Linked DNA regions of Homo sapiens: region 1 is linked to region 2. The links come from fine-mapping of genetic effects on gene expression. Tissue or cell type: left ventricle. Region 2 holds a variant in brackets; the other region holds the start of a gene. All regions are shown on one strand. Distances are between the middles of the regions.

Region 1 (2,683 bases), 28 kb before region 2:
GAATAGGGGCGTGGTCTGCTCAGGCTAAAAGGAATAGATAGTAGTTTCATAAAGGACTGATATAACTGTAGAGTCTTCAGAACTGGCCACTACAGCCAGCACATTTTCTCTACAGACGTAAGTATGTCTATTAATACCAGCCAGCTTGGTGAGTTAGAGAAACCACAGCCTGTGGATTTGGGCACATGCACTCTCTGCCTGCATCTAATCCTTCGGGTAACCATATACCTACAACTCCTGTAATCCTAGAGCAGTTACATGGATGCACTAAGTGGTGTGATGGGAGGGAAAGATAGCATCACAAGGATTCGTTTGATTGTAACAGTAATCCACACCAAGTCAAATAAAATAGCCAAACAGTTTAGAATGTGGTCTCTAATGAATTTGCTAATTCTACCAGGGCCTCACAAACATTTCCTGCTAGAGTACCCCATATCAAACCAAGTGGCTGTTCTTTAATTACATGGAATAATTATTTGATTTCCAGGAAGTTAAGACAGTGCTTTGTATTTAAATAAAAAGTTCTAGACATGCTGTGAAACTCGATCAAACCAAGAAAAAGGGTGAAACTGAATGCCTGCTCACTGACTCAAGATTTCAGCTGCTCAGCGAGCCTGACGTGACGGCTTATGAGCCCAGAAAAGGGGTATTTTAAACCCGGCTGGCTGGATCATGTCACTTTCTTATAGAAGCCCTGCCTTTCCAGAGACCTAAAGTGTAACGCAATCAGAGACCTTTGAGGGGCTCGAGGCTCGGCGGCTTCCGCCCCTCAGCACCAGCAGAGACCCCAGTTTTCAGGGGACATGATCCCATAGTGTCGCCCTCACTTTTGAAGGGCCATTAAAAGCCTGGGGCCTCTTATCTCAACGGCTTTGGGCGTGAATGTGGGGCAAGAAGGGGGGGGGAGACCTGTGGGTGTCTCTTTTGCCTGAGGAGTTGGAGACACTTGTGGAAAAGTCAGGCCCTTTTCGCTCCGGCGGCCGCTCCGGTGTGGGGCTGGCTTGGGTTAGACACATGCACACATACACCATAGAGCTCTGCTTTCCCGTAGCAGCTGCTGCCTCTGCCTCTGCCTCTCCCGCCTCAGCCTCTTTGCCCGGCATACACACACATTCAGATTTGCGCGCTGTTTCAATCCTTGATGACGTGTCCCCGGAGACAGCCAATAGCAAACGGGCTCTGGTCAGGACAATGGGAGGTATCGGGCCAATGAGCGAGCCCCGTGAGTTGGCGGTAGCCAATAGGAGCCGCGCTGGCTGGAGAGTAATGTTACAGAGCGGAGAGAGTGAGGAGGCTGCGTCTGGCTCCCGCTCTCACAGCCATTGCAGTACATTGAGCTCCATAGAGACAGCACCGGGGCAAGTGAGAGCCGGACGGGCACTGGGCGACTCTGTGCCTCGCTGAGGGTGAGTCTGGGGCAGCGCCGCGGCGGGGAGAGCGCCTCCGGCAGCTCCCCAGCCCGCGCGGCGGCCGGATCCCCGCGGCCGGGAGCCGGCGGGTCAGGATCCACACAAAGGCAAATGAGGGGGGACCGTGGGGGGAACTGCGCACGGAGCGAGCCTCTGCCCGGGCGCCGGGAACGCTGCCCCGCGCCGGTGCCCCGGCCCTCAGGCAGCCTGAGGCGCCGGGAGCCCCGCGCCCCGCGAGTTTCCACCCCCGGCGGCGTCCGCGCTGACTGGCGCAAAAAAAAAAATTTTTTTTTTAATTAAAAAAATTTTGAACGTGTTTTGGGCCCTCGGGCCGGGCGTTCGGGCGGGCGGCGTGCGCGGAGCGCGGCCGGGGCGGCGGGGCCGGCGCGGCTCGGCGGCGGCGGCGGGAGGGCAGCGGCGGCGCTTCCCCGGGCTGCATTGGCCGCCGCCGCAGCGAGCCGGGCGCTGGCGGGGAGCGCGGCCAGCCGGGCGGGCGGCGGGGCGGGCGGGGCGCCGCGGCGGGCGAGGGCGGCGCGGGGGCCTGGGGGCGGCAGTGCGGGCCCGGCCGGCCTCGGCCCGGTCGCGGCGGCGGCGGCGGCCGGGCGGCGGGGGGAGCGGCGCCGCTGCGCTCGCTGGAACATGGCTGACTCGGGCCCGGCGCTGCTGGCTGGAGAGAAAACAAGGCGGGCGGGCGGGGGAGCTGGGCGCAGCAGTTCCGAGGCAACTTTTTTTTTCCTCTCTCTTTTCACAGCCCCGCGTTCTCCGTGCGGGGGCGGCGGGGCGCGCGGCCCGCGCGGAGGGAGACGGGGAGTGGCGGGCGGGTGGGCCCTCGGGCGGCCCCCACCGCGGCGGGGGGAGGGGAGCGGCGCGGAGGGGAGGGCCCGGCCGCGCGCCCCCCGCCCCTCCCCCGGCCGTAATGGCCGAGTGTGTGCGCCAGAGCGCGGCTCGCACCCCGCCCGCCGCCGCCGCCGCGCCCGCACCCTCGCACTCACACACTCTCTCATACACACACACACACACACACACACACAAAGGGAAGGAGCCATATTCTCGCTCGCGCTCGCCCTCGCGGCGGCGGCGGCGCAGGCGGAGAAGACGCGCAGCGGCCATTCCGTGCGCGCCGGCCCCGGCGGCCGCGGGCGGAGCCAGCCCCCATTTCGAGCGGGGCTTCTCCCTGCGCCGAGCCTGACAAAATGGGGGCGGCGGCGGCGCGGGCCTGCAGGGCCTGCCGGGCGCACGTGGCGGCCTCGGGCCTGGGAGCCGGGCCGCGTCCT
Region 2 (2,683 bases):
AAGCAATCCGCCCACCTTGGCCTTCCAAATTGCTGGTATTACAGGTGTGAGCCACCACACCCAGCCCTAATTCCTACTATTTTCTACATTTGGACTATGAAATTTGACTTTTCTAATTCTACTGCGAAATCACATAGTGAGTGTGTAAAAGTGATGGTGTGTGATCCTCTTCACAAATTTCTATTCCCTTCCTTATCTGTTGGGAGACATTAGACACATTCATTTGAAAAATTGTTCTTTTCAACCAGTTCTTTTATTTCCATACACCATTTAAAAAGTAATTCCCACTGCATCTACACAAAGTTAAAATATATTAATTTGCTTCAATATAGCATTTTCTTTATTGTGTGCCAGAAAAATATCACGGAAATTTTCCTGTACTGAAAAGCAAATACCGCTTTTCCACTTGGGCAGCCTCTCCCATCCAATCGTCATTCACATACACCTTCATCATTCACTGGGTTCTCACTGAGCACTCCCTCTTAGCCATGCAGGTGCTCACAGATGTACCCCAAAGAGGAGCGGCGTGCAAAGCAACATGTCTTCAAATTCAAAAGTGACAGTGGGTTTGAGGACAAGAGAGGGGAAGAAATCCAAATTTAGAGGAAGAGTAGCAAGTGGTAAGGCTTGGGCCCAGGAATGAGCCAAGCGCAGGCGGGGAGAATAAATAGATTAGCTCAGCAACAGAAGAGGAGCCCAGCCTTTGGAGACTACAAAGGGTCATAAGGAGGACACAATTATTAAAGTAATGCAGAAGCCACTGTAATTTCTCAAGCAGGAAACTGACAGTGACAAAAATGGTGCTTGGCCAGGTGCAGTGGCTCATATCTGTGATAAGTTAGCCAGGTGTGGTGGCTCACACCTGTAGTCGGGAGGCAGAGGTGGGAAGATTGCCTGAGACCAGGAGCTCAAGGCTGTAGTGAGCTGAGTTCATACCACTGTACTCTAGCCTGGGCAACAGAGCAAGACCCTGTCTCAAAAAAAAAAAAAAAAAAAAAAAAAAAAGCCAGGTGCTGTGGCTCATGTCTGTAGTCCCAGAACTTTGGGAGGCCAAGGCAGATTGATCGCTTGAGCCCACAAGTTCAAGACCATCCTGAGCAACATGCCAAAACCTCATCTCTACAAAACATAAAAAAAAAAAACATTAGCCAGGCGTGGTGGTGTGCCTATAGTCCCAGCTACTCAGGAGGCTTAGGTGGGAGAATCCTTTGAGCCTGAGGTGAAGGCTGCAGTGAACTGAGATCGTGCCACTGCACTCCAGCCTGGGCAACACAGTGACACCCTGTCTCAAACAATAAAAAATAAATGGTGCTTTAGGCAGCGTGTTCTGTGGTTTCCCGGCCATTGGAGGTAAAACACTCACTGGGGCTGGGTCACCATGGGGCAGGCAAAATGGACATTAAGGTCAGGGTCCAAGAAGATTCCACAGGAATCAAGAGGATGATGGTAGTGTCACCAATTCCAGAACAATTGAAAAGATGTGGTGCTCATTTGAGAAAATGGTTTGCATCTTTAGCCTGTGCACATGTGATTTTAGGCTAATTTTCACACGGCC[G/A]TCGAGAGACTTGAAAACCTCTAGGTATTTTCATGCTCCTAGAGTGAGGATGTTCTATGGGTGGGTAGAGGTGGGTTATCTGTGTGGGTTTTATGCACTCTTCTTTACAGAGAGGTGGTAGCTGAACCAGGTAAGGAGCTTTCTGTCCTTTCTGACATCTGTTTGCTTAATGATCTCTGCCTACACCCTGTAGAGTTTGAAAAGCAACGTACTAGAACCATGTTTCTTCTGACATACGCTGGCTGTACAATGCACACGCTTTCCGACAATATCCACATCAGACACCTCTCTGCTGATTCTAGGCTCCCAGACTGTGGCTTTTGATTTATCCTGTGAATTGCCTGAATTGCCAGCTCTGGCTAGGCTGGCTTCTGAGCACAGCTATCATCACTCAGGCTGCTGTTCTGTCGCGGCTCAGTCTGTTTTGTCCGTACCACACTGGTTGTCGAACTGTTGATTGGTAAGCTTGCACTTGACTTATGAGAACCAGCTCAAACTGCTTATGACCCTAAAAGAGATTCACTTAAAGAAGGTGCTATGACAATTAAGAATACATCAACACACACTTAGATTAAATATTTAGATAATGCATGCATTAAGCAAAGCACTGTTTTAGTTTGATGATAAAATCAGGATCAGCTAGTCACCTGATAACATTTCATAGCTGCTTAATTTATCAATGAAACTCACTGACTTCAATTTTCCAACCCTACACTTGTAAGAAAGACATTAATATTAAAGATTGTAGTGATACCCAGTAGAGGAGAAGACAGTAATAAATAATTAGCTCCTTTATGCTTCAGTTGCTTTCCTAAATTACTTATGAAACAGCAACAAATACTACTAGTGCCATTGGGAAAGCTGACATTATCCATTTCTTATTTAACAATGGAGTCATTAAAAAAGGAAAGAAAGAGGAAAAGGAGGCTGGGAGTGAGAAACTCATTGTATTTAATACAGATTCTGGTATCTTTTTTTTTTTTTGAGATGAAGTCTCATTCACTTACCCAGGCTGGAGTGCAGTGGTGCAATCTCCACTCACTGCAACCTCTGCTTCCCAGGTTCAAGCCATTCTCCGGCCTCAGCCTCCCAAGCAGCTGGGATTACAGGTGCCCACCACCATGCCTG

The links. PIP is the estimated chance that this variant, and not a neighbour inherited with it, causes the effect.
Region 1: HMGB1 starts here. The variant in region 2 is fine-mapped to the expression of HMGB1 in left ventricle (GTEx, PIP above 0.99).

What each region holds. Positions count from the first base shown.
Region 1 is chr13:30,464,519-30,467,201 of GRCh38, reverse strand. It overlaps HMGB1 (high mobility group box 1), which reads left to right and starts at 1,266. Exons shown (of 5, transcript NM_002128.7): 1 at 1,266-1,406. RefSeq lists enhancers at 307-1,082, 1,083-1,858 and silencers at 1,294-1,603, 2,203-2,683.
Region 2 is chr13:30,436,608-30,439,290 of GRCh38, reverse strand. No RefSeq gene overlaps it. Among named protein-coding and RNA genes, the nearest start is that of UBE2L5, 15 kb to the right of the region's middle. The variant G/A (reference allele first, on the strand shown) is at 1,556.